7 linked regions of the Homo sapiens genome follow. The protein of the gene in region 7 purifies or fractionates together with the protein of the main gene of each other region. This does not show direct contact. Each region holds a gene or a part of one and is shown on either strand. Other genes may lie near its edges. The genes, in order: VRK2, ATL2, ABCD4, TMEM231, DNAJC18, ABHD3 and PTCHD3.

Region 1 (3,500 bases), on a different chromosome or scaffold from region 7:
AGCCTTTTTTCCTGTTTCTAGGACAGTCATATTCCTTCTCTGTTCTGTTTATTCATTCTTTTCGATCATCGCTTTAACAAGGTATTTAGTGTTTTTCTTAATTTTTTTTTTAGTACCGGCTAGATATTCTCAAATATTTGTTATCTATCTATTTCCCAGTTTCTCATTCACCTTTCATTTTGAAAAAATTTTTATTAAGAAATTTAACCAATGCAGAGATCAAATATTCAATTACATTTTTTCTAATTTTTTATAGACTCAATCATTTAACTCTTTAAACGTGATAATACAGTAACAACTAGGTATATTGTTATTTAAGTTTAAATTAAGTTAAATTAAAAATTCAGTTTGTCAATATTAATATTTTAATATTAAAAATATAATCTACATTTTTTAAACAGACTATATTTTTTAGAGAAGTTTTAGGTTTGATTTAGGTAAATTTAGAGCAATGTAGGTAAAACTGAGTGGAAAATACAGTGAGTTCCCATATACCTCAAGCCCACACAAAGTCTCTCCGCTATCAACATCCCTCACTAGAGTAGCACATTTTTTATAGTGAATGAACCAAGAATGACAATCCTTATCATCCAAAAGCCACAGTTTACATTATGTTCACTCTTGGTCTTGTCCATTCTATGGATCTTAACAACCAAATGATGACATGTATTCACCATTATGGTATCATGCAGAATAGTTTCACTGACCTAAAAATCCACTGTGCTTCACTCATTCATCCTTCCTCTCCCTTCTAACCTATGGAGATAGTAAAAAATTGATCTTTTTACTGTCTCTATAGTTTTGCCTTTTCCAGAATGTCATATAGTTGAAATTGTATAGTAACTAGCCTTTTCAGATTGGCTTCTTTTACATAGTAAAATACATTTAGGTTTCTTCCATGTTTTTTCATGGCTGAAAAGTTCATTTCTATTTAGCAATGAATAATATTCCATTATCTGGATGTATCAGTTTATCCATTCACCTACTCAAAGACATCTTGGTTACTTCAATGTTTTGACGAGTATGAATAAACCGACTACAAGCATTCACGTGCAGGTTTTTGTGTGGATGTAAGTTTTCAACTCATTTGGGTAAATACTAATGAGCACAACTGCTGCTTGGTATGTTAAGAGTGTCTAGCTTTCTAAGTAACTGCCCAACTGTCTTCCAAAGTGGCTGTATCATTTTGCATTTCCATTAGCAACAAATTTCCATGAGCAACAAATGAGAGTTCCTGTTACTCCAAATACTCATCAGCAGTTGGTACTGTACTGACCACGTTTTAAGTACTTAGCCACATACTGCTAATGGCTACCATATTGGACAGTCAAACAGAATATTTTCATCATTACACAAAATTTTAATGGAAAAGCTTGCTTAAAACTTTTTTTTTTTTTTTTTTTTTGAGATGGAGTTTCTCTCTTGTTGCCCAGGCTGGATGGAGTGCAATGGCACCATCTCAGCTCACTGCAACATCCGCCTCCTGGGTTCAAGCAATTCTCCTGCCTCAGCCTCCTGAGTAGCTGGGATTACAGGCACCCACCACCACACCCAGCTAATTTTTGTATTTTTAGTAGAGACAGGGTTTCACCATGTTGGCCAGGCTGGTCTCAAACTCCTGTCCTCAGGTGATCCACTCACCTCGGCCTCTCAAAGTGCTGGGATTACAGGCATGAGCCACCGCGCCCGGCCTCTCTGCTTAAAACTTAATTGGTTATACAGTAGGAAATGATGAACTAATATGACAGTGTTTTAACCTCTACATAAATCCATCTCTACTCCCACTGGATTTTGATGGTTCTTTGCTTATCTATATTTGCTCAGAAATTCAAATTCCTGCTCAGCCACTTCTTAACTGTGTGCCCATTAACATATTATTTAACCCCTCTGACTCTCAGTTTCTCATCCTAATTACTCATTAGTTTGGTACAAAGATTAAATTAGATAAGCAGGTAAGATAAATTACAACATTCATCATGTTACGCCCTCATTTGTAAACTCTTCTGGGTTAGAAGTTTGTTTTCTGAATGTTTCAGTTTCATACATTAAAGACCTTTATTAAAAGCAAAAGTATGTATTTACCTGGTCTGGATTTTTGTAACCCAAAAGTAGATTTGCTGCTTTTATATCACCATGAACATATTCATTTTCATGTATATATTCCAGTACATCCAACTGTGAAAATAAATAGATAAAATAAGGTTTACTGCTATTTAGAACTCATGATCAATTTCAACATTTTGAATATAGAATAACATGGGTTTTTTCATATTAACATTGACAAAGCGATGTATTTCACAATTACTGGTTAATTATTCTAAAATATCACATCTTCTGGTTGCTCATCCTAGAAAAAAGTAAAATGATCCTCAAAAATCAAGTATTTTAGTTGAAGTTCCAAAGGAAGAAAATCAAGATTCAAAAATGCTTATGCCTAATTCCTGATAGCCCAGTAGCCAAACCGCACTGCACAAAGAGGAAAAACATAGCATAAAATCAGAGATCTATGGTGAAATAATCTTGAAGCCCACTCAGCAATTCCTCACCTAAGCAATAATTATAAATCAAGCCTTGAGAATCTCAGAACAAAATGCCATGTCCATGAGCAAAGGGAAAGGTATTCTTCCTCTGTATGGTAATAGAAAACTCCTTAGCTTCATCTCTAAAGCCCTTCAGCCTTGCATGTTACATACACTTAGTACTCAATAAACATTTGCTGGCTTCGAGGATGGATAAATGAGAAAATTAATGCATTCTATTTGCTGCATTCCAATCTGGCATAAGCAGCTTCATGCTACTCAAAAGTGAAAAAATGAGACTTAAACAAACCAAATACAAACATATAAGACAAATATGTAGTATAAACAAATGTGTGCCTGAGTGCTATTAAGAGTTCGTTGCTTCTGCTTTGGCAAAGTATATTTTATTCATTGTCACAACTAATTATTGCCACCATCCCAAACTCATAATAAAAACTTCATAGCACCCCCCTACCATCACATGTTTAAAATGTCTGACAATATATTTTGCCATAATTTGCATTGTTATAACTGACAAAAGAAAGGTTATTCTTACAGCAATGAAAGCTTGTTCTGGTATGTAAAACAAAGCTCTAAGGAAAAAGAAGATCAGACTGGAGAACCAAAGCCTAATTGAGTTTGCAGTGCCATACACAGCACATTCTGTCACTTACAGAGCCCATTGTTATCAATTTCACCAAAATAGCCTCTACTCCTAATAACTGATGTCTCTAGGGCAATAATCCTTCATTCTCTAATAATTCCACAAAGGGAAAAGATTTCTATATTGCAAGAAGTAAACAATTTGGAAATGGAGCATGCGAAATAAGTAATTCTTACCATTCGGATACCTAATTGCAGGACAGTTGACTTTTTAAAGGTACCATTCTGGCCTGAGATCTTCTGTAAATCTATTCCTAGTCTTTCCATTACCATAAATCTGTAACTGTAAGAAAAAAGCATCAAAAAGAGATCATCCTG
Region 2 (3,500 bases), on a different chromosome or scaffold from region 7:
AATAAAAAGAGATACGAATAAACAATCAATATATGATTAACAATTTAAGGCCGGGCGCGGTGGCTCATGCCTATAATCTCAGCACTTTGGGAGGCCAAGGCGGGCAGATCACGAGGTCAGGAGATCGAGAACATCCTGGCTAACACGGTGAAACCCCGTCTCTATTAAAAATACAAAAAAAAATTAGCCGGGCATGGTGGCGGGCGCCTGTAGTCCCAGTTACTACAGAGGCTGAGGCAGGAGAATACCATGAACCCGGAAGGCGGAGCTTGCAGTGAGCCACTGCACTCCAGCCCGGGGAACAGAGCAAGAATCCATCTCAAAAAAAAAAAAAAAAAAAAAACCGCCCATTTAAAACAACTTTTTTTTTTTTTTTGAGACGGAGTTTCACTCTTTTCACCCAGGCTGGAGTGCAATGGCGCGATCTCGGCTCACTGCCACCTCCGCCTCCAGGGTTCAAGTGATTCTCCAGCCTCAGCCTCTGGAGTAGCTGGGATTACAGGCGCTTGCCACCATGCCCAGCTAATTTTTGTATTTTTAGTAGAGATGGGGTTTCACCATGTTGTCCGGGCTGGTCTCGAACTTCTGACCTCAGGTGATCCTCCCACCTTGGCCTCCTAAAGTGCTGGGATTACAAACGTAAACCACCACGCCCGGCCTAAAACAACTTTTTTTTTTTTTTGAGGAGTCTCGCTCTCTCTCCCAGTCTGGAGTGCAGTGGCGCAATCTCGGCTCACTGCAAGCTCCACCTTCCGGGTTCACACCATTCTCCTGCCTCAGGCTCCCCAACAGCTGGGACTACAGGCGCCTGCCACCACGCCCGGCTAATTTTTTGTATTTTTAGTAGAGATGGGGTTTCACTGTGTTAGCCAGGATGGCCTCTATCTCCTGACCTCATGATCCACCCACCTCAGCCTCCCAAAGTGCTGGCATTACAGGCGTAAGCCACCGCACCTGGACTCTAAAATAAGGACTTTTTTTTTTTTTTTTTAATTTGAGACGGAGTTTCACTCTTGTTGCCCAGGCTGGAGCGCAATGGTGCAATCTCAGTTCACCTCAACCTCCACCTCCCAGGTTCAAGCGATTCTCCTGCCTCAGCCTCCCTAGTAGCTGGGATTACAGGCATGTGCCACCACGCCCGGCTAATTTTGTATTTTTAGTAGAGGCGGGGTTTCTCCATGTTGGTCAGGCTGGTCTCGAACTCCCCACCTCAGGTGATCCGCCCGCCTTGGCCTCCCAAAGTGCTGGGATTACAGGCATGAGCCACTGCACCCAGCCATAACAACTTTTTAAAAGCACTCCAATAGCATGCCTAAAGACTAAGACTACCACTAATAAGTTCAAAAAAATTGCCAATTTATTTAAGAAAAACATGAAAGAAACCAACACACACAATTCTCACCAAAAAAATACAAAATTAAAAAGCAAATATGAAAAATAATTTCCTGCATGCAAACAGGCTTTTACAAAACAATAAAAGAAATACTGGGAAATGCTCAAAAAATATTAAAAAGCAATTAATAAAAAGAAGTCAGAGCTGGGCACAGTAACTAACGCCTGTAATCCCAGCACTGAGAGGTGGAGGTTGGAGGATCGCTTAACCCCAGGAGTTCGAGACTAGCCTGGGCAACATAGTGATACCTCATCTCTAAAAAAGTAAATAAACTAATTCACATTTTCAATTTCCATATCACTATTCCAACATCAACTACAATCAAAAAATTGCAAATTAAACTGTAATATGCCCATTTTTACCTATATGTTGGCATTTATTTTTAATTAACACCCACTGTGAACAAAGATACTTGCAAACAAGCACAAACCTAACCCTGATGAATAAATGGGTAAAACCTTTCTGAATGGATCTAGCTTTTTCTTGAAAATGTACATGTCAGGCCAGGTGCAGTGCCTCACACCTGTAATCCCAGCACTTTGGGAGGCCAAGGTGGGTGGATCACCTGAGGTCAGGAGTTCAAGACCAGCCTGACCAACATAGTGAAACCCCCATCTCTACTAAAAATACAAAATTAGCTGGGCGTGGTGGCACATGCCTGTAATCCCAGCTACTTGGGAGGCAGAGGCACGAGAATCAGTTGAACTCAGAAGGTAGAGTGAGCCGAGACTGCTCTACTGCACTCCAGCCTGGGCGACAGAGTAAGACTCTGTCTCAAAGAAAAAATAAATAAATTTTTTTAGTAGAGACGGGGTTTCACTATGTTGGTCAGGCTGGTCTCGAACTCCTGACTTTGTCATCCACCCGCCTTAGCCTCCCAAAGTGCTGGGATTACAGTCGTGAGCCACCATGCTCGGCCAATTTTTTTTTTTTAATTAGCCAGGCATGGTGGCACACACCTGTAAGTCCCAGCTACTCAGGAGACTAAGGCAGGAGGTTCACTTGAGCCCAGAAGGTGGAGGCTGCATATTTGAGACCCTATCTCAAAAATAAGTACATAAATAAAAAATAAAAATTAAAGTGCTGATAAAAAGAAAACAGCAATTTATGAAGATGCTATTAATAGCCATCTTGAAAAAATTCTAAGAACAGGGGTGTTTTCCCGTCAAAACTCCTCTCGGATTTGTCATTAAAAAAAATCAAAGCCGGGCGCGGTGGCTCACGCCAGTAATCCCAGCACTTTGGGAAGCCGAGGCAGGTGGATCACGAGGTCAGGAGATTGAGACCATCCTGGCTAACACGGTGAAACCCCGTCTCTACTAAAAAAAATACAAAAAATTAGCCGGGCGAGGTGGCGGGCGCCTGTAGTCCCAGGTACTCGGGAGGCTCAGGCAGAAGAATGGCGTGAACCCCGGGGGGCGGAGCCTGCAGTGAGCCGAGATCCCGCCACTGCACTCCAACCTGGGCGACAGCGAGACTCCGTCAAAAAAAAAAAAAAAAAAAAAGAAAGAAAATCAAGACCGGGCGGTCGCTCACACCTGTAATCCCAGCACTTTGGGGGCCGAGGTGGGTGGATCACCTGAGGTCAGGAGTTTGAAACCAGCCTGGTCTGTCTCTACTAAAAATACAAAAATTAGCCGGGCACGGTGGCGGGCACCTGTAATCTCAGCTGCTCGGGAGGCTAAGGCAAGAGAATCACTTGAACCTGGGAGGCGGAGGTTACAGTGAGCCAAGATCGCGCCACTGCGCTCCAGCCTGGGAGACAGAGTGAGACTCTGTCCCAAAAAAAAAAAAAAAAAAAAAAAAAAAAAAAAAATCAACCCAGCCAGCACAGTGGCTCATGCCTGTAATCCCAGCACTTTGGGAGCCCAAGGCGGGCGGATCACTTGTGGTCAGAAGTTTGAGACCAGCCTGACCAACGTGGTAAGACCCGTCTCTACTAAAAAATACAAAAATTAGGCGTGGTAGCGGGTGCCTGTAGTCCCAGCTACTTGGGAGGCTGGGGCAGAAGAATCTCTTGAACCCAGAGGTGGAGGTTGCAGTGAGCCAAGACTGTGCCACTGCACTCCAGCCTGAGTGACAGAGCAAGACTCGATCTCAAAACGAA
Region 3 (3,500 bases), on a different chromosome or scaffold from region 7:
AGGGTTGTGTCCGCTGTAGGGCATGTGGATGGTTCCTGGGTGTCTCACAGATGTGTTTTCTACAGTCGGCATCAACACCTTTGACTATCTGGGCAGCATCCTGAGTTACGTTGTCATCGCAATCCCCATTTTCAGCGGGGTCTATGGAGACCTGAGTCCCGCAGAGCTTAGCACCCTGGTCAGCAAGGTGAGACTCCCTCTTGGTCACCCCACATGCTGTCCCTCTCTGTCCTTGGCCCAGTGTCTGTGGGCTCGAGTCGAGACCTGCTTGACCTCTTCCCATCCTGTCCAGAATGCCTTTGTGTGCATCTACCTCATCAGCTGCTTCACCCAGCTCATCGACCTGTCCACGACGCTCTCAGATGTGGCTGGCTACACGCACAGGTGAGGCCGTGTCCCACCCCTCTGGCTCCTGAGCAAAGTGTGTGCTGCTGGCAGAAGTGGCTGAGTGAAAAAAGGAACAGAGACATACCATGTACTCGTGGGTGTGAGATAGGAAAAGGAGTTCACCTTCACCTGGCTCCCAGACCCTGCCTCAGATTTTCTTTTCTTGTTCAGAATTGGGCAGCTTCGGGAGACGCTTCTGGACATGTCCCTGAAGTCACAGGACTGCGAGATCCTGGGCGAGAGCGAGTGGGGCTTGGACACGTGAGTAGCGGGCTGGCAGAGCAGTAGTTGAGGCTGCAGGCTGTGGCATCACCTGGCTTGGGTTACCCTGGAGTCCTGCCCTTTCCCAGCTGGGCAGCAGAGTTGTAAGGAGTAAATGGAAATGGAATGCCAGGCACATGTAAGTTCACAGTCGATGTTGCTGTTCCGGCATCTGTTGTGTTAATTTACACCATTCCCCGGCCAGTGGAAGCAAAGTACACACACCTTCTGCCTGAGATAACAGGAATCTGCAGTGTCCTCCCCTTCCTGTGCTTCCTCCTCCCGCTGATTCCTCTCCCTGCCCCTTTCCTTGGGGCATGTCTGTCTTTGTTCCCCCACCTCACTCAGCCCCAGAGATGTCTGTATCCGTGTGTCTGCGTGGATCTGTAATATTTCTGTGCATTCAGGATTTGCTTGATCTCCACACTTTCCTTGGGCAGATTACCTAACTGTTCTGTTTCTTCATGTCTGAAAAGGAGGTCATAATGAACTTCCTTCACTTGTTGTAGGGATTAGATATCATCATCCATGGAAAGTGCTTGGACAGTGGCCACATCATAAGCTTTCAAAAATCAGTCTGAATTCCAGGGCCTACACTCAACTTGCTTTTCTTAGGAGCTAATACCTTAACTGTTGCTTCTGTTCCAAATGAAAGCTTCATGCAACCATGAGTGCAGAGGCTGGGCATGAAGGAGGGTCTGTAGGAAACTGGAATTGCTGTTCTGTGGGGAGCCAGGCATCCATGCAGAGGCAGAAACTCCAGAACCATTTAGCTTTAACCACTCCCATTCTTGTTATTAGTACTCTGGTCACACTGTGATGCCATGAAGACCCACCAGCATTAGAATTTGTTGAATACCGCTCTGCAACCTGGGCAGTTACTTAGCCACCTGATTCTTAGTGTCCTCATCTGTGATGATATTTGAGACTCATGGGCATTAGACTGAGTAAGATCAGTCCCATAAGGGGCTTTGTCCAGCCAGGCAGAGAGTAGAAGTTCCACCCCTACCCCTGTATTAATGTGCTCAGGCTGCCATGACAGAAAACCACAAACCGGCTGGCTTAAACAATAGAAATTAATTTCCTCACAATTCTGGATGCTTATGGTCCACGATCAAGTTGTCAGCAGGGTTGGTTTCTTAGGCCACTCCTTGGCTTGTAGATGGCCACCTTGTTGCTGTGTCCTCACGTGGCCTTTCCTTTATATGTGCGTGCCCCTGCCACCTCTATCTTAAGAGGACACCAGTCATATTGGATTAGGGTCCCACCCCAACAACTTCATGTTAACATCATCTCTTTAAAGACCCTGCCTCCAGCTGGGCACGGAAGCTCACGTCTATAATCCCACCACTTTGGGAGGCTGAGGTGGGCAGATCACCTGAGGTCACAAGTTCGAGACCAGACTGGCCAACATAGTGAAACCCTGTCTCTACTAAAAATATGGGCACGGTGGTGGGCACCTGTAATCCAGCTACTCAGGAGGCTGGGACAGGAAAATCGCTTGAACCCAGGAGGCGGAGGTTGCAGTGAGCTGAGATAGCTCCACTGCACTCAAGCCTGGGTGACAGCAAGACTTTCTCTCAAAAAAAAAAAAAAAAAAAAAGACCCTGCCTCCGAATGCAGTTACATTCTGAGTCACTAGGGGGCTGGACTTCAGCATGTGATTTTGGGAGGATGCAAGTCAGCCCATAATAATCCACAGGTGGTGGCTCCCGGGAGCAGTGCCTCCCCCACAGCAATACTGACCCTGCCCATCTTCCTCACGCCCCCTCTCTTCTCTGACACAGACCCCCAGGGTGGCCAGCGGCAGAGCCAGCAGACACAGCATTTCTCCTTGAGCGGGTCTCCATCTCTGCCCCCTCCTCTGACAAACCCCTAATCAAGGATCTGAGCCTAAAGATCTCCGAGGGACAGAGCCTGCTCATCACAGGCAACACGGGCACTGGCAAGACCTCCTTGCTCCGGGTTCTGGGTGGCCTCTGGACGAGTACACGGGGTGAGAGCCAGGCCCTCCCTGCCTCTGACCCAGCCTGGGCCCTAGGGGTGGGGTGAAGGCGGGGACGGTGTGGTAGAATCCATTCTTTTCTGTTGGGGAACAAGGAAGAGAGGAGACAGGCAGTTGCCTCTTCTGGGAGATCTCACAATGGAGGTTTCTGTGGGCTCTGCAGGCTCAGTGCAGATGCTGACGGACTTTGGGCCCCATGGGGTGCTATTCCTGCCACAAAAGCCATTCTTCACTGACGGGACCCTTCGGGAGCAGGTCAGTCTAGTTCAGGGGGCTCACTCCTCCCTCCTCAACCCCGCCCACCCACAGCTGGGACCTCTGGCACTGTGACAAGTCTCAGGTCCTAGAGTCAGGGCAAAAGGTGAGGTGGTGAAGTGGCCCGGGCCTGGGAACTGCTGGCTCTAAGAACCTTCTATTCACATCCATGGATTGGGCCCACTACTCATAGCAGCTCCTGAGGCAGGTAAATGGGGCAAGGACTCACGCCAAATACCACACGCGTATGTCAAACACCCAAGGTCGGATTCTGGGGCCCCTGCCCTCAGGAGGCTGTCAGACTGTTCCCCCTAAACACACTTCTGAAGGTTGTAGGGACCTTGCCCTGCTGTCTGCCGGCCAGAGCCTCTCCCATCTGACCCAGGCCAGGCGTTCCCACCTCTCCTCCTTGGGAGGTTCCAGTGGGTTCTGGAGGGAGGGTGGGCTGTGTGCAGCTCCGTCTTTTGCTCGCCCTCCTAGGTTGGTGTGGTTTTTTTCTTTTCTCAGGTGATATATCCCCTGAAGGAGGTCTACCCCGACTCAGGTGAGCTGGTCCTCCTTAGGTCATGTCCTCTCCTTCTGTCATGGTTGT
Region 4 (3,012 bases), on a different chromosome or scaffold from region 7:
GCTCAGCCTGGCCTGGTGGCATATGACTGTAATCCCGGCACTTTGGGAGGCAAGGCAGGCAGATCACTTGAGGTCAGGAGTTCAAGACCAGCCTGGTCAACGTGGCAAAACCCCATCTCTACTGAAAATACAAAATTTAGCCGCGCATGGTAGCACATGCCTGTAATCCCAGCTACTAGGTAGGCTGAGACAGGAGAATAGCTTGAACCCCGGAGGTGGAGGCTGCAGTGAGCGGAGATGGGGCCATTGCACTCCAGACTGGGTGACAAAGCGAGACTCCATCTCAAAAACAAAGAAACAAACGGGCAGAGTCCAGTAATCTGAAAAGGATAGAGCATTGGGAGGTCCTTTAATCCATGGTGGTATCTGAAACGAGGAGTCCCTGCTGCTGGGAGTAGAAATTAGCAGTCTTTCCTGGCTGTGGTTTGGCAATGAATTAAGATCCTTAACAATGGTCATAAGTTTTCTGAATGTATCTTAAGGAAATAAACCAGCAACAATGATTTCTACACAAGGTTTATAAAAGTGTTGTTTGTGATACTAAAAAGGTTACATACAACAAAAAAGATTAGAAAGATGTGTGCCAGAATGCCAACCATAATAACTTCTGTGATCAAACTGCTGTGATCCCAGCACTTTGGGTGGCCAAAGCGGATGGATCACTTGAGGTCAGGAGTTCGAGACCAGCCTGACCACCAGGGTGAAGCCCTGTCTCTACTAAAAACACAAAAATTAGCCGGGCATGGTGGTGGGCACCCGTAATCCCAGCTACTCGGGAGGGTAAGGCAGGAGAATCACTTGAACCTGGGAGGTAGAGGCTGCAATGAGCTGAGATCATGCTGCTGCACTCCAGCCTGGGTAACAGAGTGAGACTCTGTCTCAAAAAAAAAAAAAAAAAAGAAAAAGAAAAAGAAAAGAAAAACCACCTACTGGGTACTATGCTTATTACGTGGGTGATGAAATAATCTGTACACCAAACCCCCAGGTTGTACAATTTAGCTATATACGAAACCCATACATATACCCCATGAGTCTACAATAAAAGTTGGAAGGAAAAAAAAAAAAGAAATAATTGCTTTATTAGCCTTACATGATGGAATATTAGGGGGGCCTCATCTGACTTAAGCCGAAACTGTACTAATCATTTGGCAAAATCAGGAGTCTTTCTGCCTCCAAATATTCAGTAATAACATCAAACCTTAACTTAGCTATGGGTCGGAGCTGAGTTAATAAAATCCTCTATATTTCTTTTTTTTTTTTTTTTTGAGACGGAGTCTAGCTCTGTTGCCAGGCTGGAGTGCAGTGGCGCAATCTCGGCTCACTGCAACCTCCGCCTCCAGGGTTCAAGCGATTCTCCTGCCTCAGCCTACTAAATAGTTGGGATGACAGGCACGTGTCGCCACACCCAGCCAATTTTTGTATTTTTAGTGGAGATGGGGTTTCACCATGTTGGCCAGGATGGTCTCGATCTCCTGACCTTGTGATTCACCCACCTCGGCCTCCCAAAGTGCTGGGATTACAGGCGTGAGCCACCGCTCCCGGCCTCTTGCTTTTTATTTACCTCTTGCAGCTATGCTGTGATTCAGAGTCAGAAACTATCAACATCTGGTCTGTAAATAATTTCATATTCACCAGACACAGTCATAATTATCCAACACGTAGATTTCACATGGCATGTGAATCCCACTGAAAACTCATCTACCTGGGGAAGAACTAGGGGACTTTCACCAAAGACCTCATGGAAGTTCCAAGGTCGTTAGGCAGAGCCTTGTAAAGCATGGCTGTAGATGAGTAATAAAGACAGGTGTGTGCAACCTCTGCCCTCCCTATTCTTTGCCATTCCAAACCCTTTCCCTCGAAAAAGGTACATGTGATCTTCCATTTTGACTTTTTTATTTATTTATTTATTTATTTTAACAGATAGGGTCTCACTCTGTCACCCAGGCTACAGTACAGTGGTGCAATCATAGCACACTGCAGCCTCAAGCTCCTGGGCTCAAGTGATCCTCCCACCTTGGCCTCCCAAAGTGTTGAGATTACAGGAATGAACCACCATGCTCGGCCTCATTTTGAACATTTTAATTAGAAAGTTACAAAACATCATGGGTTCTTTATACAAGATTTGCATTAGAATAATTTAATAAAATGCAAACCAATGTTTATACGTATCTTGTCATCTTTCCATATCTCATTGCCTTATGTGAATTTAAACAAGAAACTATTTTTCGTTTAGATCTTAAGAAAAAAATTTAGGCATATAAAACAGCCTGAATATTAAAAAAAGACAAGGGGGTCAGTGTTAGGGAATTCCTCTGCTTGAATACTTCAAAATAGCTTTGTTTCCAAAACTGTTTTAGTAAGCCTAAAGGAGCACTAAAAACGACAACTGATCTCCAAAGTAAACTGAGGCACACACTGAGGGGTGTGTTTCTGGGTGGGCATGAAGCATGGATCACCGGGGCCATGTCCTTCCAGTGGCAATGACCTGCTTGGGATCAGGAAGCAGCTCCATGTGTTCTTGGAGGAGACTGCCCACATCCTCAGGAGGTGAATGGGCTGAACAAGCCATCTTCCGTGTGCAGAGGCCCCTTCCAGCCATCTCTGCTCCTGCAGACACTTGCTTAGCCACGAGGGTAATCCACTGGACTGCTTGGTATTCTGCTAGTGGCCAGGCTGGACTGGCCTGCCCAGGCCAGCATCCTCTTTACACTCTTACTGCTTCTTGTGTCCTTCCCAAAGCTGCCCGCCCCACTCTGATGGGCACCCTGTTCCTTAGTCAAGGGAAACGCCAGCCGCTGGGCTTCCCGCTAGCCTTCCAAATAAACTTGTGGTTGTCAGGCAGCGGGAGCCAATCCCAACACCAACCCCTGTCGCCCCTGTCCTTTGCAGGAAGGGGGAGGGCTGTCAAGGAGGAGGAGGGCCAAGTGCCCAGGCTGTTGGGTGAGGGCCAGAAAGAACCTGTTGTGACAATGCTTTCTTCCCCCAGTGCTGCTGAGGGGGCTGAGAATGAAA
Region 5 (2,912 bases), on a different chromosome or scaffold from region 7:
GAGTCTTGGTGCTGGGCCTCACCTGTTCCCTGACCCCCATTCCAAAAACCCAGCCCACCTGGCTCAGAGTAAGTTCTCAATCATTGCTGAATTGAATCTCATCTCACTTTCTTTTTCAAATGAAAGCTATCATGACCAGTTAGGATCATGTAAATATCATTTACTATATTTTTAAACCAAAACTTTCCTAAATATGGGCCACTAGGACCAAAGCCAGCAAGGAACTGGGATAACACCTGAATTTCTGATGCTAAGTGTAGTTTTGATCTGTATATTGGCTGTGAGGTACTGCAGCTGCTGTTATCTGATAGAAAATGTGGAACTGATGCCAACAATGCTATCTACTATTCTAAATGCAAATAATCCCACTGACGGGTGAGGGAAGACTGGAGCAGGCGTCAAAAGCTTCTTTAGTCGGAAGTGGCTCCAAGGGAGTCAGGCGATGTGCAGTGGCCAAGGATGCCATGGGCAAAGGTAAAAGAACCAAGGAAAAGTAGCCATTCTTTTAATATAAAATTGTTTAATGTTTTTCTTTGTTGCAGTACACTCAATCCAGATGTAGTGGATGAGGTGGCCAGATTTTTTCAAGATTCTTAGTCCACCAGGAGCTGATTCCATTTGTGTCATCCCTACTCTGGTCACAGAACATTCACATCTTTAATTCCAAATACTGAGCGTGATGTAAATGATGTAATCAGTATCTAACACGAGTATATACTTTCTTGGTGGCCACTGCATGACATATCAACAGTGCAGCCTCAAAAAAAAGATGTTTTGTAACTTGGCCCTTTCCAAAAATAAATATATTAGGACACTAAGCTTATACCTTAAATGAGGGCAGAATAAATATGAATGAAGTGCAAGCTCCTGTGAGGAGCAGTGCATGCAGATGATGTACTTGCTTGTATGGTGTGGCCAGCTGTAACAGAAAGCCACTGGAACGGCACAGTGCCTCCTCACAAAGCCCATCCTGGGTATCATGAGGAAAAAGAATGACACATAGCTTGGCCAGGCTGCTGGAACCCATGTTCCAGTGGCATCTGGAGTTCACTGTATTTTCTTTTTTCTTTCTTTTTTTTTTTTTGAGACAGAGTCTTGCTCTGTCACCCAGGCTGGAGTGCAATGATGTGATCTCAGCTTACTGCAACCTCTGCCTCCCAGGCTCAAGAGATTCTTCTGCCTCAGCCTCCTGAGGAGCTGGGATTACAGACACGTGCTACCATGCCCGCCTAATTTTTGTATTTTTAGTACAGACAGGGTTTCACCATGTTGGCCAGGCTGGTCTGGAACTCCTGACCTCAAATGATCTGCCTGCCTCAGCCTTTCAAAGTGCTGGGATTACAGGCATGAGCTACTGGGCCTGGCCAGTTCACTGTATTTTCGAACAATTTCCAACAGAAAGCACAGCAGTGACGTTTCCTTACTGGTCACTGCTCCCGTGCTGTGAGGCCTGGAGCTGATCAAGGAAGCTTACACATTTCCCGGCCTGAGCAGATGAACTCTAGGGTTGCTAATCTGGGGACGTGGGTTCCTTCAAGCTCTTTGTGATGAGAAGGATTTTCATCCTCCTTTTCTCACTGCCGATCGTGCGGTAGAGAGAGCATCTTCATTTGAATGAGAGCTTCAGTTTCTGCTTGAGCCTCAAGCCCTATTTCTGAGCGCTGCTCCTCTCACACACGTCTCCAATCTGCAGTAATGCTCAAAGAAACAGTCTAGAGCTGGGTGCCAAGCTCCGGCAGCAAGAATAAGCCCTACCTAGTTATGTATGATCAGGAGATCTTCCAAAGGACGTAGGCGAGAGGAAAAAGCTTATTTTACCACCATGCAGACAACCCATCTAAAATATAACCCAGGAAATTATAGCTTCACAATATTCTGGATAGTATCAAATAGATAAATCCTTCAACCAAAAGCAAATACGGTTCCCTTGAGGAAAAACAGATGTGAATGTTGTGGTCTATTGGCAATAAATAAAACAGTACCATCGGTGCTATAAAAACAGACAATCAGCGTGACATTTAATGGAGTTAGTTATTATTGCTTCTATTTAGTATCATCACAGATTACTTATCGCTGCCATGAAGTCCATAAAATGTGTGACTACCTGATTCCTGGGCATCTAGGACAGGGTCTTTTAACCTGTCAAGTCAGTTTCATTATGGCCAATTTTCTAGCAGTGGTTGGGGATGGGGAGAGGAGAGCTTTGATTTTTTTGTGTGTAGAAGAACTTTCCATAAGCCTGTTTGGCTCATGGACATATTTTACAATGTAACCTCCCTCAGTCACTCAGAGGGGATCAAGAAGGGCCCCCTAAAACCAGGAGGACAGATCTAGTTGGGCAGCAAAATCTGGCTATTTCTAGAAATGCTCCCTCTCCCTGCAACTGAGCAGTTGTCCCCTACAAGCCACTAAAGCCCCCAATCTTTACCTGTGAACCCATCTCCTGACTCTGTGGAATGCCTGCAGAGGCATGGTAGGGAACAACCGTTCAGATGTTGATGAGCCATGCTAGGCACGTCTGTGTAAATCATGGCCATGCATTGGGATGAAGAAACTTTACTTTGGAATCTGTTTAATGTAGACTCTTTTTTTTTTTGAGATGGAGTGGAGTGCAGTGGCGTGATTTCAGCTCACTGTAACCTCCACCTTGCAAGTTGCAGCGATTCTCATGCCTCAGCCTCCCGAGTAGCTGGGACTACAGGCATGTGCCACCACACCTGGCTAATTTTTGTATTATTAGTAGAGATGGGGTTTCACTGTGTTGGCCAGGCTGGTCTTGAACTCCTGACCTCAGGTGATCCACCTGCCACAGCCTCCCAAAGTGCTGGGATTACAGGCTTGAGCCAGTGCACCCGGCCGACTCTCTACCAGAAACTTTTCTTCCAATATGAAGGAAGCATGGAGTGTAGGCT
Region 6 (3,500 bases), on a different chromosome or scaffold from region 7:
GATGTTCTAAAAACTGAAATGACAGATAAACCAATTATAAAATTATGAAAAAATATCATTTTCTATCTTCAGTATTTGCTGATTTAAAAAACTAGTTTTGGACAATGGCTTCAGGAATCTAAAAGCTTAGTAAAATTCCCGATAATAAAAATTTTGGATTTCCTTAAGCTCACCATCACTAGAACAACCAAAAAAAAAAACCCCAAAAACAATTAGTAGAAATAAGCCTAAATAGGAAAGTTCCAAATAAGCCCCAAAGTAATTGCAAGCAGCACAAATGACAATATCCGTATGCTTAAAATAACAGCTGGAGTAGGGGGTTAACAAAATTTCAGTTTCTAGGAGAGCACTCCACAGTAGTTCCATTTGCCCAGCAACAAAACAAAACAAAACAAAATACCACCTGGGGAAAAATAATTTTGAAGGCCACTGCAGCTGGAGAGAGCAATAAGTGATTATTTCTGTAACTGGAGTGATGAAAGTCATGCTACAAGTTCAGCTTCAGAACGCAGCTCCAGGGATGGCTGGGAGTGCGTCAGGAATCAGAAGGTCAACATGGCAGCCGGTGAGTGATGCAATCGACTTCATGGGCTTCAGACAAACCTTCAGGCTCACAAAATCCGCAGTCACAGAGACCCGTAGTTAAGAAAAATATTAAAATTCACCTGAATTAATTCTTTCCTTCCTTCGTTCATTCAATCAACCGCATTTAATAAAATATGATAAACATAATCAGACATTTATTTAAAAAGTGTCCATACAGCTAGCTTATAGTCCTCTCAAAGAGACAGCCAATAAAATAGCTTCCCTCTCAGAGATTATTTTAGAAAGGGAAAACCTTACCCTCCCATTGAAACCCCTGCTGCCAGGAAAGGAGCAGAAGGGTACAGGCTGTGTACATGGTGAATAACTGTCTCCAAGTCTTCAGTGTTAGCACAACAATAAGTCCTTGGCGTCTGGAAGTAGTGACAAGTAAAGCACAAAAATTACAATGTGAGGTTAATGATTTGTAAAATGCAGAAATGTAAACAGGAGCAAGGAGTCATACATATGAGAAAATAACCTTTGTTTGCACATACTGTAGTATTAATAATTTATCATTTTCCTGTCTTGCAGCGCACATACATGCCATTTAAAGTCAGCACAGTTAGAGTTGGCACTAACAAAAAGACCATGAACATGCAAGGAAGGCTTGATGCAGATGGGGCAAGACCAATACAAATACCTTCAATTAAACAAAGTACCATACTCAAACGTGTCTCCAACTTAACCAGAGCAGTTTAGGAAAAAAAGCAGAGAACTGTGCTTTCTATTAAACAAAAAACAACCTGTACCCTCAAAGACAAAATAACCTTTTTTTTTGTTTGTTTTGGAAAGACAGAGTCTTGCACTGTCACTCAGGCTAGATTGCAGTGGCATGATCACAGCTCACTGCAGCCTCGACCTCCCAGGCTCAAGCAATCCTCTGACCTTAAACTCCCAAGTAGCTGGAACCACAGGTATAGGCCACCACAAACAGATTTTTAAAAAAATGTTTTGTAGAGACAGGGGGGTCTTGCTATGTTGTCCAGGTTGGTCTTGAACTCCTGGGTTACAGTGATTCACCTGCTTTGGCCCCCCAACGTGTTGGGATTATAGGTGTGAGCCTGTGCCTGGCCCAAAGTAACTTTAAAAATATTATTATTTTTGAGATGGAGTTTTGCTCTGTTGCCCAGGCTGGAGTGCAGTGATGTGATCTCGGCTCACTGCAACCTCTGCCTCCCAGGTTCAAATGATTTTCCTGCCTCACTCCCCTGAGTAGCTGGGATTACAGACACCCACCACCATGCCCGGCTAATTTTTGCATTTTTAGTAGAGATGGGGTTTCACCATGTGGACCAGGCTGATCTTGAACCCCTGACCTCAAGTGATCCGCCTGCCTCAGCCTCACAAAGTGCTGGGATTACAGGTATGAGCCACCACGTCTGGCCAAAAAAAATTTTTTTGAGACATGGTCCTGCTCTGTTTCTAGGCTGGAGTGCAATGGTATGATCACAGCTCACTGTAGCCTCGACTTCCTTGTTCAAGTGCTCCTCCTGCTTCAGCCTCCTGAGTAGCTGGGACTATAGGCATGCACCACCATGCCTGGCAAATTTTTTATTTTTTTGTAGAGACAGGATCTTGCTATGCTGCCCAGGCTGGTCTCAAATTCCTGAGTTTAAGTAATCCTCCCATCTTGGCCTCCCAAGTAAAATCATTATTTATTAAAAAACAAACAAGCAGCCAGGCGCAGTGGCTCACACCTGTAATCCCAGCACTTTGGGAGGCCAAGGCAGGTGGATCATGAGCTCAGGAGATGGAGATCCTGGCTAAAACAGCGAAACCCTGTCTCTACTAAAAATACAAAAAATTAGCCAGGTGTGGTGGTGGGCGCTGTAGTCCCAGCTACTCAGGAGGCTGAGGCAGGAGAATGGCGTGAACCCGGGAGGTGGAGCTTGCAGTGAGCTGAGATCACGCCACTGCACTCCAGTCTGGGTGACAGAGTGAGACTCCATCTCAAAAAAAAAAAAAAGCAAAAGGGGCTTTTCAATAGTGTACCCCAAATCCCCAAAATTTTAAATTGTAGCTCATTTCTAACTGGGGAACTGTTTTCTCCACCTTGAGTGCTGTCTGCCAATGAAAGAGTATGGTTTCCTAGTGCTGTCTTCACTCTAGATAAAGCAATCTACGGTCTAATTTATTAACTGAATATTTTCTTTTATTTTTAAATTTATTTTTATTTTATTTATTTTTTTTGAGATGGATTCTTGCTCTGTCGCCCAGGCTGGGGTGCAGTGGCACAATCTCAGCTCACTAGTACCCCTCTGCCTCCTGGGTTCAAGCAATTCTCCTGCCTTAGCTTCCTGAGTAGCTGGGACTGCAGGTGTGCACCAGCTAATCTTTATTTTATTTTATTTTTGAGACACAGTCTCGCTCTGTTGCCAGGATGGAGTGCTGTGGCGCGATCTTGGCTCACTGCAACCTCTGCCTCGCGGGTTCAAGCGATTCTCCTGCCTCAGTCTCCTGAGTAGCTGGGACTACAGGTACGTACCACCACGCCTGGCTAATTTTTGTATTTTTAGTAGAGATGGGGTTTCACCATGTTGGCCAGGCTGGTCTCTAACTCCTGACCTCATGATCTGCCCGCCTTGGCCTCCCAAAGTGCTAGGATTACAGGTGTGAGCCACCGTGCCCGGCCTATTTTTTTTGAATTTTTAGTAGAGACAGGATTTCACCATGTTGGCCAGGCTGGTCTGGGACTCCTGACCTCAAATGATCTACCCGCCCTGGTTTCCCACAGTGCTGGGATTACAGGCGTGAGCCACTGTGCCTGGCCAAACATTTTCTTTTCTAATAGTATGTATATACAGATAGCCTCAGCTGTACTACACTGCAGTAGACACTTAAAATATTAAAATATGTAAAGTTGACCATGCTTCAATATATAACACATTTAAACACATGGTTTTCATGTGAATGTC
Region 7 (3,500 bases):
CTTTGTATTTTTGGTAAGCTCAGAATTTATTTTAGTAAGCATTAGAAAATAAAGGTGTTTATATTTTGGAAAGTAAGCATCTTGGAAAAACTAATATTTGGTTTTCTGGGGGAGATAGTGAGTTGTGTACTGGATATTAGCTTATTTATTCTAGCTTTTCAAGGCATACCTTCCTCGTATGCACTCACACCTAATCATCCAGTGTACCCCACAGCCATAAATAACTATAGTTAAGATATATATAATTGATTTAATGTAAGCCATTTTGTAGAGTTTGCAGGGAGGCCTAGGACATTCCTGTATATAACTGTAGACTTTATAAACACCAGATACTTAGGTTATTTTTAAAATTTAAAATTTAAATTTTAAAATTAAATTATTAAATTTAAAATTTAAAATTATTTTAAAATATATTTTTCTTCAATAATAAATTAACCTTAGCTTACTGTAACTTTATTATTTTATAAACTTTTAAGTTTTTAAAAAAGTTTTTGGCTTTTTATGATAACACAGCTTAAAATACAAAAACATTGGACAGCTGTACAAAATATTTTCTTTACTTATATCTTTAATCTATAAGCCTTTTTCTATTTTTAAAAATCTTTATTTATGGCTGGGCACGGTGGCTCACGCCTGTAATCCCAGCACTTTGGGAGGCCAAGGTGGGCGGATCACGAGGTCAGGAGATCGAGACAATCCTGGCTAATATGGTGAAACCTTGTCTCTACTAAAAATACAAAAAGAAATTAGCCAGGCGTGGTGACGGACGCCTGTAGTCCCAGCTACTCGGGAGGCTGAGGGAGGAGAACGGCGTGAACCCGGGAGGTGGAGCTTGCAGTGAGCCAAGATCACGCCACTGCACTCCAGCCTGGGCGACAGAGCGAGACTCTGTCTCAAAAAAATAAATAAATAAATAAATAAATAAATAAAATAAAAAATCTTTATTTTTATTTTATTTTTTTACTTTCTAAACTTTTTATTAAAAACTAAGATACAAAAACACATATGAGCATAGTAGTGCATGCCTGTAGTCCCAGCTACTCGGGAGGCTGAGGCAGGAGAACAGCTTGAACCCGGGAGGCGGAGGTTGCAGTGAGCTGAGATTGAGCCACTGCACTTCAGCCTGGGTGACAGAGTGAGACTCCGTCTCAAAAAACAAACAAACAAACCAAAAACCACACACATTAGTCTAGGCCTACATAGGGTCAGAATCATCGCTATCACTGTCTTCCATCTCCACATCCTGTCCCACTGGAAGGTCTTCAGGACACGTGGAATTGTCTCCTATGATAACAATGCCTTCTTCTGAAATATTTTCTGAATAACCTACATGAAGCTATTTTACAGTTAACTATTTTTTTCATAAGTTAGAGTACACTCTAAAATAATGACATAAAATTTAGCATAGTGAATACATAAAGCAGTAACAATTGTTTATTATTATGTTGTGTACATAATTGTATGTGCTATACTTTCATAAGACTGGCAGAGCAACACGTTTGTTTACACCAGGACATAAGGAAAGAAAATACTATTGTACAGCTGTCCATTGTGTTTGTGTTTTAAGCTGTGTTATCACAAAAAGTAAAAAAGTTTAAAAGAAACTTTAAAGTTTATAAAATAATGAAATTATAGTAAGCTAAGGTTAATTTATTATTGAAGAAAGAAAAATACATTTTTAAATAAATGTAGCATAGCTTAAGTGTCCAGTGTTTATAAAGTCTGCAGTAGTGTACAGGAATGTCCTATACCTTATGTTCACTCAACATTCATTCACTGACACCCAAAGCAACTTCCAGTCTTGCAAGCTCCATTCGTGATAAGTGCCCTATACAGGTGGACCATTTTTCATATTTTCTACCATATTTTTACTGTACCTTTTCTATGTTTAGATATATTTAGATATACAAATACTTACCATTGTGTGACAGTTACCTATAGTTTTCAGCGTAGTAACATGCTGTACAGGATTGTAGCCTAGGAGCAAGAGGCCCACATAGCCTAGGTGCGTTGTAGGAAATATAATCTAGGTTTGTGTAAGTACACTCTAGGAAGTTTACACGATGTTAAAATTGCCTGTGGATGCATCTCTCAGACCCTCAATGTTAAGTGATACATGACTGTATTTTTAATGACGCGTATTTTGTTTTTTACATGTGAACTGCTGTTCACGTACATGGTCTGTTTTTCCATTAGGATACTCGATCTTTCCACCTCTAGAGATATCCAGTTCAATTTCATTTCCCTGTTTCCTGGCACCTCATTTTTGAACTGTAGAGCCACCTTAATACAATTCTTTCCCTTATATATATCCCCTACCCCACCACATACACGGTGTGCAGCCTCCCGTTTTGTTTTACTCACCTAGAATAAGAAATGGTGAATTGGCAACTATGATGACAAATGGCACCCCAATGTGCAACAGCAGGCCAAAGCCGCTCACCACTGCCAAGAAAGCAGAAATCACTCCAAAGGCCGCAACACACATTTTGTTTCGTATGCAGTCAAACCTGTAAATTTGGAGGGAAAAATCATGGAATTTGTGGTGGTAGCTTTCATCAATGGATAACATTCTTGACTTGGACACCTAGTCATAAATCTCTAAGACAGTAATTTCCACACATATCTGCTGGAGACCTTTAATTCCCAGGGACTATCTCAGAACAACTGAAAAAAAAAAAAGGAAAGAAAGGGAGCAGAAAAGTTAGAAATCTGTAAATCTGTACTTCTACCGACTCTGCTATATGTGATTCTTTGCAGCCAGCCAAGCACTAAGTCACTGACTAGCATTTTGGAACCACAAAGAATTACTAAAACACTGCTAATGGCTAATTCCACTCTGATCTTCAGAAGGGTGTGAATGGAATATAACAGATAATGAAGAGCAAGCTGTACTAGAGAAAGAACATAGATCCAATTATCTTTTTATCCATCCCTGGTCTCTAACTAGCCATAACACAACATTAAATGCCTCCTGTATTTCAAAGTTAGTACAATGTGTATTGTTGTTAACATAAAGTAGGAAAGTCTTTTAAGTTACTTTCAGGATTCTTCTCTACTGGTGAAGTGGGCTCTGTGGAAAAGTTGCTACGAATTTGGAAAAAATTAAAATGTGCTATATTTTAAATGACCCAAACTGTGCCTGTTTCCTTGGCAAACCAACAGAAACAGGACTATATACAAAATATTTTAAAGCATGATTCAGTGCTTTACCTCCTCAGCAACCATAACATTACCTTTTAAAAGATTGGCAACAACCTCTGGTTTTAGATTTTGCTTGTTAGAAATTGCTTCAAAACAAATGACTGATACCTGCATTCAGATATTTTAGTAGGGGAGAGAAACTAAGTTTGGAATTTTAGTCTAGGAGCTGAAGAACTGGAGCCACTGGTTTCAAAACAGCAGGAACATGACTGAAGACCTGCAGGGGAGATCACATTTAAATAGATAAAATTCTTCTTCTTAATAAAATGTCTATACTGTTATTGTATTTCACTTTT

The links.
Region 1: the proteins of PTCHD3 (region 7) and VRK2 purify together in Homo sapiens (affinity purification with mass spectrometry; one large-scale study listed by BioGRID and IntAct). This does not show direct contact.
Region 2: the proteins of PTCHD3 (region 7) and ATL2 purify together in Homo sapiens (affinity purification with mass spectrometry; one large-scale study listed by BioGRID and IntAct). This does not show direct contact.
Region 3: the proteins of PTCHD3 (region 7) and ABCD4 purify together in Homo sapiens (affinity purification with mass spectrometry; one large-scale study listed by BioGRID and IntAct). This does not show direct contact.
Region 4: the proteins of PTCHD3 (region 7) and TMEM231 purify together in Homo sapiens (affinity purification with mass spectrometry; one large-scale study listed by BioGRID and IntAct). This does not show direct contact.
Region 5: the proteins of PTCHD3 (region 7) and DNAJC18 purify together in Homo sapiens (affinity purification with mass spectrometry; one large-scale study listed by BioGRID and IntAct). This does not show direct contact.
Region 6: the proteins of PTCHD3 (region 7) and ABHD3 purify together in Homo sapiens (affinity purification with mass spectrometry; one large-scale study listed by BioGRID and IntAct). This does not show direct contact.

What each region holds. Positions count from the first base shown.
Region 1 is NC_000002.12:58,088,306-58,091,805, reverse strand, and holds part of VRK2 (serine/threonine-protein kinase VRK2), read right to left. Parts: intron 3,466-3,500; coding exon 3,360-3,465; intron 2,176-3,359; coding exon 2,083-2,175; intron 1-2,082. UniProt on the Homo sapiens protein: Serine/threonine kinase that regulates several signal transduction pathways.
Region 2 is NC_000002.12:38,367,274-38,370,773, forward strand, and holds part of ATL2 (atlastin-2), read right to left. Parts: intron 1-3,500. UniProt on the Homo sapiens protein: Atlastin-2 (ATL2) is a membrane-anchored GTPase that mediates the GTP-dependent fusion of endoplasmic reticulum (ER) membranes, maintaining the continuous ER network. It facilitates the formation of three-way junctions where ER tubules intersect.
Region 3 is NC_000014.9:74,289,435-74,292,934, reverse strand, and holds part of ABCD4 (lysosomal cobalamin transporter ABCD4), read left to right. Parts: intron 1-65; coding exon 66-187; intron 188-292; coding exon 293-384; intron 385-558; coding exon 559-648; intron 649-2,435; coding exon 2,436-2,644; intron 2,645-2,816; coding exon 2,817-2,908; intron 2,909-3,415; coding exon 3,416-3,452; intron 3,453-3,500. UniProt on the Homo sapiens protein: Lysosomal membrane protein that transports cobalamin (Vitamin B12) from the lysosomal lumen to the cytosol in an ATP-dependent manner. Targeted by LMBRD1 lysosomal chaperone from the endoplasmic reticulum to the lysosomal membrane.
Region 4 is NC_000016.10:75,536,241-75,539,252, forward strand, and holds the end of TMEM231 (transmembrane protein 231), read right to left. Parts: 3' UTR 501-3,012; downstream 1-500. UniProt on the Homo sapiens protein: Transmembrane component of the tectonic-like complex, a complex localized at the transition zone of primary cilia and acting as a barrier that prevents diffusion of transmembrane proteins between the cilia and plasma membranes.
Region 5 is NC_000005.10:139,409,703-139,412,614, forward strand, and holds the end of DNAJC18 (dnaJ homolog subfamily C member 18), read right to left. Parts: 3' UTR 501-2,912; downstream 1-500.
Region 6 is NC_000018.10:21,663,275-21,666,774, forward strand, and holds part of ABHD3 (phospholipase ABHD3), read right to left. Parts: intron 957-3,500; coding exon 844-956; exon of another isoform or gene 487-843; coding exon of another isoform or gene 404-486; intron 1-403. UniProt on the Homo sapiens protein: Phospholipase that may play a role in phospholipids remodeling. May selectively cleave myristate (C14)-containing phosphatidylcholines through its predominant phospholipase 1 activity, cleaving preferentially acyl groups in sn1 position.
Region 7 is NC_000010.11:27,400,848-27,404,347, forward strand, and holds part of PTCHD3 (patched domain-containing protein 3), read right to left. Parts: intron 2,511-3,500; coding exon 2,365-2,510; intron 1-2,364. UniProt on the Homo sapiens protein: May play a role in sperm development or sperm function. However, does not appear to have an essential role in spermatogenesis or male fertility.